Homo sapiens: one gene and its partner. The protein of the gene in region 1 interacts with the protein of each later gene in a biochemical or structural test. Each region holds a gene or a part of one and is shown on either strand. Other genes may lie near its edges.

What was found. Proteins that work in one complex are often made in the same cells at the same time.
Region 2: the proteins of CNKSR2 (region 1) and SMURF2 form a complex in vitro, tested with the Homo sapiens proteins (one study listed by BioGRID).

Annotation. Positions count from the first base shown.
Region 1 is NC_000023.11:21,650,418-21,655,189, reverse strand, and holds the end of CNKSR2 (connector enhancer of kinase suppressor of ras 2), read right to left. Parts: intron 2,885-4,772; coding exon 2,669-2,884; 3' UTR 501-2,668; downstream 1-500.
Region 2 is NC_000017.11:64,541,782-64,547,358, reverse strand, and holds the end of SMURF2 (E3 ubiquitin-protein ligase SMURF2), read left to right. Parts: intron 1-1,020; coding exon 1,021-1,096; intron 1,097-1,411; coding exon 1,412-1,511; 3' UTR 1,512-5,077; downstream 5,078-5,577. UniProt on the Homo sapiens protein: E3 ubiquitin-protein ligase which accepts ubiquitin from an E2 ubiquitin-conjugating enzyme in the form of a thioester and then directly transfers the ubiquitin to targeted substrates.

The DNA of each region.
Region 1 (4,772 bases):
TCTGTCACCGGTGTCACCCTAGGCTGCTTTTGCCCTGACTTTAGACAGCTCACTGGTTTTAAGTCACATTTCATCAACCCTTAGCCATAATAATCAGGATCCTCTGGTTAAGTGGAATGTCTAACCAAAACAAAACAAAAACTGATTTCTTTCATACTCTTTTAAATGTTCATTCTGCAGACATACTGTAGATTATATTTGTAAAAAAAAATCAATTTTTGGTGGTTACCCCCACTTCCCCCAAAAGAATCACAGAGAAAGGAAAGAGGAATAGGTAAAGTTTTAAACTTCGTCTCAGGTAAATGGGAAACGAGCTTGATTTTTCAGGGTCTTAGATAAGACACTTGTATATACTGAACAGGTGCTGCTTTTGGCTTGTATCACCAATGAGGCAGCAAAGTTAGAACTCGAAACTAGGGTGGGGGGTGGTGGCTGTATAATTAGGTCACAAAGAAATGTGGTAAGGACTTTGCATGAATAAAGTAGGTGCTTTATAAGGATTCATTAAGAGCTGAATTTATTTGACTTCAGTTTACAGTGCTGCCTCTCTCCTAGATTTGAAACGAATGCAATAAAATGTACAGATATTATATAGTGTTAAAAGGTCTCTTTCATGCTAGGCTAGCCACGAGTCTTGTCAAATTCATTAGTTTAATTTTTACCATTTAAAACAACAGAGCTGACTTTACAAAAGTAAAAGCTGCTTAGTAGCAACAGAGCTAGTCTTCCCGTCAACTGCTTGCTGTTTACAGGCCACAACCTGGCCACTGTAAACATGACACATCCATCAGGTACATATATTTTTAAGTGAACATACACATTTGGTCTAGTAAACATCAATAAGTCTAAACACCTGTTAACAAGCACACTTCATTTTAGGACAAGAGGTTTTTTGTTTTTTTTTTTTTTTTTTTTTTACATATACAAAATCCCACAAATTTAATGTGCGTCAATATCCATGCAGTAAATAAATGTTTTTACAAATAGAGTTCTTTTTAAATGATAAAAATATTACACTGGACCCAAAATTCCATACAAACATTAATACATGATTTCTCATCCATTTTGACTAAATATAGGATTACTGAAAATGTGCTGTAGAAAGGCCACTCTCCTGTACAGTTGTGCAAAGTCTGCAAAACGATAGTGATTCAATGGTGGTTTCAAAAGCAAAGAAAAAGATCCCCGCTGTGGAGTTTTTACTTTCTCCTCTACAGCAAAAATATTCACTGGCATATATCTGAACTCTTAAAGATGAAAGTACATTCACTGAGCTGTACAGGCAACAGTATAAAGCTGATTAGAAGTAGATTTTAGGATATAGAATAGTAAAGGAGGTTCCCTTTCTCCTCCTGAAAAAAACAGCAAATTGTGACTTGTACATTATGCAGCCAGACACTAAAAAGCAGCACAGTCATTTTCATGCTGTGATCACTTTCAAAAACAAGACGCTTATAAATGGAAATATATGAAGAGGACTTTTCCTTAGACTTCATCCACTCTATAGAACAATTCATGAAGCCAGGAAAAAAACCTCTAAATTGTTTCTCTCATAATTCAATGTGACATCTCTTTGAATGACCATCACCTGCTTGCTCCTTAGAAGGGAAGTACATTTTTATTTTTCAGTGTTGTTTTTTATAACACACATCAGCCTGAAACTAAACATATTGTACTTCCCTACCTGAAGTATAATTACCTAAGTTTAATTAGTGGACTAGGGGAAAATTGGAAACTAAGTGGAAAGTTGATTCATTTCAGTTTATACCTTGTTGTCTTTTAAGAGTTGGAGTTTAAAAACATGAGTTTGGGCTGAAATTTATATATATATATAGCTGTTAGCTGCCTTTCTGGGTGTGTTAAGTCAGTTTTTAAAAATCCCCTCTCAAATTCTTCTGTACACAATCAGCATCTCATCACTACAAAAATAAAGGAAGATTTAAACCAAGAAAATAAAGCAGCTCTATCTTCAATTTTGGTCTTAGTTACAAAAACATCTTACAAAGCTTTGCCCTGATACACCAAGTGTTCTCATAGATTTGGAATAATATTTCCATTAACTTAGCTTTCACAAGTTAATAGACTATTAAGACGAATATTAGATACCTGAACTTTTCTTATGTCGATGCTCTTCTATTTTGCTTAGCTCTTGTATGCGCATCTACATTTCACAAAAATAAAACTACAGCATTAAACTTTGTGCAATGTTTAAGAAAATTCTTAGAACATTTTAATAAATATAAAAAAGGTTTAAATTCTTTCCCACCCACAAGGATGTCTGCACCTGAAAAAATGTGATTTACTTTTGAAGTCTTGTTTATATAAAATTAACTTAAAGGGAGAAAAGATGACCATAGATAGAAAACTGCCTTTTGTGGTTTTACTACTTGAAGACCACCTGTATTTAGAATTGTTTGCAAAAGTTAATTTTAAGTCATTAAAGACAGTTGATTTTGCACATGGTAAACATAAGCTGAGCACTGTTGCATATAAAATATACAAATGCTCATTAAAGATAGTGGTATTGTGACCATATATGGTTTGTTTCATATAGTTTGGTAACATTAAAGTATAGCTTGTCAAGTGTTCCACACATTGATATAAAAACTACCTTATATACTTGTTCAGAGTACCAGCAGGTACTAGATGGTCTGAAGGCAGAATACATTTAGACATGCGTTTCAATGTATGAATGAGTGTGTGCTAGAGAGGAAGTGATTACATCTACTTCAGAAGAAATACTCAGTGGGTCATTTGAGGTGGTATTTTGACAGATATCCAAGAAAAGGTCGAGGTACATCTGCTTCCATTGTTGGAATTCTTTAGATGTCAAGTCTGGATTGTCTAGGACTTTATCGATAATGGCTACTTCCCCTTCTCTGGCCTGAAAAGAAAAAGGATTCAACAATTAAGACAGGGACAAAGTTTTATTCAAGTTTAAAATAAAAAGTTAATAGGCAAAACATTTAAGAAGCCCATAGGAGATGGCTTTGGATACTCACACCCACCCAGCTCTTTAGACTCACGTCCTAGTGTACTTTTTTCTACACCCGAGGAACGCCTCCTTTTGCCCACTGTGTGGTTTGCTTTTTCTCTTTGCCTGTCCTTTTGCCCATCTCTGCTATGGAAACCTTTTTCGTTCTTTAAGATCCAGTTCAAAAGCCTCTCATTTCTTCAAGCTGTGCTTAAACACTCAGAAAAGTTTTCTCCCTCATTTATGCCCCTTTACTACTCCATCAGTGCCACTGAGTACATTTGTCATATTCTATTTCTTGAGTTACTTTTGCATGTGTTCTATTTCTCCTGCTTTATGGTAAGCTTCTCATACTTGAATGAGACTGAGCATGGCCCCCCTGTTACCACAAATACATAATTCTTGCTGTGTGAATGTTATGGCTCCCTTTCTGTAGCACTGGGGGCCTGTAATGGAGAATGGCTCTCCCTTCCATGTTGGAAGCTGGGTCTCAGCTGAAGACTGAGCTTCATTTTGGTATAACTCACCAAGTTAAAACTATCACCTGGGGAAGATGAGAATTTCCCAGGTGGAAGGTGGGATGGAGAAGTAGGGGTTAAGAAAGTCTGAGCAGCTCAGTCCTGACCCAAGTAAAGCTTAGGGAAGTGTAGAAAATGTTCTGCAGGAAGTAAGGCATACACCTCTGGGCCAGCCAGAGTTGGGAGGCAAAGAAAACAGTAAGGTGGTTAAGAAGTTGGTCTGGCCTCACAGACCAGAATATGGAAGAGGGCTGGGACTGAGGATGTTGTGAGTTGCCTGTGGTGGGATCTGAGATCTGTGCTTGGTGAGGGGGACTGTTAAAATTCCAGGAAATAGACACATCCAGGGTTGCTTGGCCAGCTATGCTTCCCTAATGAAGGAATTCATTCCCTATTAATTTTCCATGCCAAAAACCATAGGGTTCTGTAGTTCATTTGTACCAATGAGGGACATTTTTTACAGTGACTTTTCGTTATCTTTCTTGGTCCCAGAGAATCGAGTGGAGCATTCATGTACCTGGTGATTCATCAATACTTAGTGAACTGAACATTGGCAGTAGCCATATATTTTGTCACTGGAAGAAAATACCCTGGGGGACTCTACAGAGCATAAAAGACAGGGAAAAGGGGCTGTGAGATAGAAGGAGAGAAACAGGTCTTTAAGATCCATGAATCTAACCTGCTTCAAAATGCCTGCCTGCCTTCTAAACCAGGCAGTTTAGAACTGAATGGGGGAAGTGGAGAGGCTCTATAAGGTGGGAGGGTGATGATATCTTTGGAGTAGGATTAGTCACTGCAACTATTCTTACGACTATTAACAGCACTCTCTAAAAATTCTGCTCTTCCCAAAAGTCCATTAAATTGTCCCCTGGATTTGCAGTAGTATTTGCATGACTACCAATTAAAAGCTAATGGAGTCTGAAAACTTTGCTGCTTGCTATCTGAAATTTTTTCAGGTCATTTTCTAGTTTGTCTGTCTCTTTGGTACTCACCTATATTTCAAAATTACAAAACCTCAGCAGCATGCTATGGATCTGAAATATTTCCCAAAGGAGCCCTCTGACCTTCTGTTTCCTGAAATTACTACAGCACATACTCTGTATGATAGTTCTTTTTTTTTTTAATTATACTTTAAGTCTGGGATACATGTGTAGAATGTGCACGTTTGTTACATATGTATACACGTGCCATGGTGGTTTGCTGCACCCATCAACCCATCATCTACATTAGGTAGTTCTCCTAATGCTATCCCTCCCCTAGCCCCCCACCCCCCGACAGGC
Region 2 (5,577 bases), on another chromosome or scaffold:
CTCTGCCTTTGTTTTCTGGTCACCTTACTTTTAATTCTGTTGCACATTCCTGTAGGGAAGTCGTTCACTTCCATGTTCACATCTTGACCTGGTGAAACGTTTACCTGCCTGGGATGCCTCTCCCCTCTACTTTTCGTTCTTTCTCTTATTAGACAGAAGCAGCATGGGTCATGGAAACCATCTGTTCGGTCAGAGCATTTTAATTACTGCATGGCATCAGACCATTTGTTTACAACCATATTCCTTTTTTAAGAATGGTTTTCTGTGGAATAAGCTGGTTAATTTTGGGAGGAGCTGGTAATATTGCTAATGATTGTGGTGCTTCACTGGGTGGCAGTTGCTTCCTTTACCTCTTAAGCACTTCATTTTCAAAGCTGCTGGTGATGAATAAGGACACACAAAGCGACACTGGTACATAATTCGACAGTGCTGCCCACAGCGCATGCGCTGAAATCCCTGGGGGGAGAGCGTGCTTTCAGCTGTGCTGCCCTTCTCTGTAAGGAGAGCTCCTCATCCTCACACTTCCCAGATGCATAAAGTGAAGTTGTATTTCTGCTACATGTATTTATATGGGGTGCCTGTGCGAACTGAAATGGATTCTATAGACGGCTCTTTTGCTGTCAGCCCAGTTTGAGTCATGAAATCTAAATTTGCATCAGGTCGTCATCTTTTTGAATGTGTGCCTATGTATTTTACCTTGGATTTGCCTGATTACTTTTCTTCTCATGCTTTTGGGATATTGACTTTCTATAAAAGATAGAAATTGAGAAAGGGATTTCAATCTTGAGTTTTTTCTCAAATGGAAATGTGAACCTATTACGGAATCTAAGCCTTATCCAAGGTTAATTCTGGCTCTTAAAACCCAGATGCTTTTCCTGCTGCCCTTTGGTAGTATGTGTGGATTCATTAGCATTCCCCTATCCCCAGATCCTGTGGTTAACTTACCAGTTTTATTCTTAAGATTTTGGAGACTAATGCACGCACCTGCAGTGATTTCATCCACATTTCCTTCATTTGCAGGTGCTGCAGGCCCGAGACTCTTTACCATACACCAGATTGATGCCTGCACTAACAACCTGCCGAAAGCCCACACTTGGTAAGGTATTTTTGTAGCTGTATTCCCCATTCCATGTACATAAGTGTTAGTTCCAAACAGATTTGACTTTTTATTTATTGTACTTACTAGTGTTAAATGGGCCTTTAAAGGGAATGATAAGCAACTTAAGTGATTTAAAAGTTAAGATTATTCGGAAATTGGTAGGAAAACCCAAAAGTGGTCATCTCTGTTTTAGAGAAATACCTTTTAGTTTTCTGTGTGACACAGAGTGATGTGGCTATACTGGTATACACTTGCTAGGCCAGTTTACTTATTTTGAATGAACTGTATAAAATTTGATTTGCTTATTCACAGCTTCAATCGAATAGACATTCCACCCTATGAAAGCTATGAAAAGCTATATGAAAAGCTGCTAACAGCCATTGAAGAAACATGTGGATTTGCTGTGGAATGACAAGCTTCAAGGATTTACCCAGGACTCTATTTATACAACCCTGACTGACAGCCTCCTTTCAGCAGAGTTTCAAAGAATATGCTGAAATACAGGAAAACACTCCCCCCCCCCCCCTTTTTTTTTTTTTTTTTACATTTTAGGACACTGTGAGGGGAAAGGACAATTTTGAAATTCCTTTTCAAGGAAAAAAAAGGTCTTTATGCTTTGCCATGAGGCCACATTCAGCTGCTATTTAAACTTAATATCTTGAACCTAAAGAATGCTGACTTTTCCTACATTTCCAGAGTTAGGCAGTATTCTACACTTAAAGACTACTACTATTTTTATAAAAGGTAATCTATTCAAATTTCTTCACAGATTTCAAGTCTCTCAAACATCAAGACAACTTCAGCAGTCGGTACAAGTCACATTTCATTTTGATTGAATACATGATCTTGAACAGCTCCTGTACTTGCTCTTTGTAAAAAAAAATAAAATTATTTTGAATTATTCTACCTTTGTAAACAATTGGCTAAAAGAATCATCTTTAAGAAATTAAGCCATTTACATGTTTGTGTTTTTCTATAGCAGAGCATTATATTTTGCATTATATGTTTCAACCTAGTCTAAGTGGGTCTTTTTTACATTTTTCAAGAACGGATTTCCTGGAATACAGCGATATAATTTTGGTTGTCAAATTCCTAATGCAACCATTTAGTCTAAACTTAGTCATTTATTTGTGACAATAAGATGTGTTCAGGGGCTCCCTGTTTTTAAGAGACTCTTTTAAAAAAAAAAAAACCTAATGTTTTTATCTTGAGTCAATATGATTAGGTATTTTGGATTTACTTTTAATCTTAAAATACTGCATTTTTATAGCTTCTCAGAGCATGTGGATGGGATGGGATTTTCGTTATTTTGCTGGGTCAGCTTATCTTTAATATATGGACTATTCCTATAAACCAAAGTCTCTGACAAGTGCACCTAATTTATATTGTATTTTAACTACAGTGTAAGTTTCCATTAACAAAACCATCCTAAAGCGTTAACTGCTCATAATTTTAATCAGCTACAGTTATGAAAAAGGAAGAATTTTGCTCTAAAGATTATTAATAAGCTTAGAAAATCCTGCTTTTACCTAACAGAATGAAGTGGGGTTGAGGGGCGGTAGTATGAACAGTGATTCTAACTCTATGGCGTAAATTACTTTGAAGAGTTCATTTTGGAAGTAAGGGAATCCCGCTTCCCTTGGTGTTGAAGATCTGCATCTGATTTTGAAACGTCCAGATTTAGCTTTCAAGGTGCGTGCATGTTGAATGATCCAGAAGCAACGAAAACTCTGGGGTGAGGGATTGAAAAAATCTGAAATCACAGTTGGATTTTTAAATTCAACCATCAAAAATATGTACTATCAGTTTTTTTTTACATTGATGTGAAATAAGCAAATTTTCATGATAATTAAGCTGCAAAATTTAAAGTTATCAAGTAAATAGGTCCTCTGTGTTCTGTTTCATGTGATGGAGTGGGTTTCAGTCTGTGTTCTTGGAGCCAAAGGGTTCCTCAGGGGTGCCTCAGGAGTAATGGTTTAAGAGAAGAGGGGCAATGAGAGGGAGCGAGGGGGAAGGCCTAGTTGGTATTTGAGCAGGGGCCTTAGGCTCCATATCCCCACCCCCTTTACCCAGAACAGCCCATTTTTCTTATGTATATTGGAATTTCAAGTAAGCTTTCATGGGGTGCAGTGGGGCGGGGAGGAATGGATGGGATAAAAAAAGTGGAGATTTTGCTGCTTTAAAAAAGTTGAGAACTACTTGTGTAGTTTTTAAGTATTTTAATGTATTTCATTTGGCCAAATTCAACTGCCACAAGCAAGCTAGTCATAGTTGTAACTGTGCAGTGGTAATATGCTTATGCCTACCTTTTTCCTCTCAAACAATTTGTTTTTTTTACATTGCATTCTGAGTACTGAAGAGCATCTTGAAATGTATGGAAGTGGTTTCTATGCTATTTGATAATCAGTAATGTTCAGCTGTCATGATAGTACTTTACTGGTTGCAGACCCATCTCTCTTTTATATTAAAGCACTAGTGCAGTTTATAATTGTGCCTACTTTTAAAATCTTTCAGTAAAAAAGTACATAATGAATACAGAAATCATAACTGACAGGGATACAGTAATAATGAAATGCTACTATCACTTATTTTAATATACAATATAAAGCAGGCAAATACCATTGCTTTTTGAGTGCCTTTTTAACTTTATACTAATGACTTAATAGAGCTTTAAAAGAAAGAAATTGGCTGGGCATGGTGGCTCACACCTGTAATCCCAGCACTTTGGGAGGCCGAGGTGGGCGGATCACCTGAGGTCAGGAGTTCGAGACCAGCCTGGCCAACGTGGTGAAACCCTGTCTCTACTAAAAATACAAAATTTAGCCGGGCATGGTGGCGCACTCCTGTAATCCAACTACTTGGGAGGCTGAGGCAGGAGAATTGCTTGAATCTGGGAGGCAGAGATTGCAGTGAGCCGAGATCGCACCACTGCACTCCAGCCTGGGCGACAAGAGTGAGACTCCGTCCCCGCCCAAAAAAAAAAAAAAAAGAAATTACTCTCCATAACAGTCTATGTTATCACCAACATATATAAAAACATGATTTAGATTTCCATTTCAAAGTTACATTACCCGATTACTTCCAAATAGGTGCTAAGCAAAAACCCCCAATGTATTATTGAACCATGGACTTGCACCTCATGTTTAATGTGAATATTTATTTCCATGTCCCTCTTAACTGGTTTTTTCTTGTCTTCCCTCTAGCTGTATTGTTATTTCAGATATGTGATATCTGTTTTCATACTCTTGCCTTTCCATCATGAATGCTTAGTTATGAACAGAGATTCCTTTGTAGAGCTCATAGGCAGTACAGAGAGGTAAGTCTTGCCTCAGAGGGCCTTGTATCTTGGTGTAGTTTTTAAATAGTGCATAGTGTATAGTGTATAGTGTACATTTTGTTTTGCACATAGTTTGTTGCCCCGAATGGGTTTTTTACCAAGCCTTTTTTTCTTTCATGTATTTACAGTCCGGAGCACAAGATTCTCTTCTTTCAAATACAATGTAATTCGCTTTACTTTACAACACTAAATCTGGGCTTTGAATTTCCAGTGCATTGGACTGATTGGATTGTTGGGAGTTAGAGGCTGTTCCAACCATCCTTAGTTTGGGAGAGTGGCTCCTTCTGCTTGTTTTCTAAGCGTACAGTCAACGGGTGCCATTTGTGGTATTTAACATGTTAGGATGATTGTTCCAAATGCTGAGTTGTTTTATTTCTAGATGTAATTAGTTCACTTTATGTAATATTCTTCTCTCAGACTGACTTTAAAAACAAAGTTTTATCATTTTCATTGTATTTGTATTTATTACAGAGTGTTTTAGCTTTGATATTCTTTGTATTTTCATTCATTTGTTACATGAGCTTTATCAGTAACATCTGTATAAATGGTTTTTAAAAATTAACTATGTATGTGCCCATGCCGAAGTCGAGCAATAAAATCAATGCTGTTTGCACTGTCACAGCATCAACGTTTTTAAAGAATATTGAGTTTGTAATGAATCGTTTTGAAAACATTTATGGTTGGCTCTATGGAGGGTGACAACATGAGTCACAAAATGAAAAGTTCAAGAACACATGCCATCCTGAGTTGATGCCTCTGTCATGTTGCAGAGCTCAGCTTTCTGTCTCCTCGCAGAGCAGGGAAGGTGCCCGTTTTCTCCGGCCGTGGTGACTGCTCAGTTGGTAGTACCTGTTGGGGGTACCGCATAGGTGGATTTCTGAGGGGGGTCAGGGGCTAGTGGGGAAGAGCATCTTGGTCCTGTCACCAGTCTGCAACCATCTTTGCTATAATACATCTCCGCTCTGTAGGGCAGGCCTATGACAGGGGCTCATATTTGCCAGCCCTACCTTGGTATGTCGAGCAGTAAAATTCTCAAAATGAAAAGGAGAAATCAATTGTATTTTTTCTAGAAGCTGTGGATTTTAAGGTTTATAATTCACTACTGTATTAATGATAGTGGACTAAAGTCCAGCTAACTCTA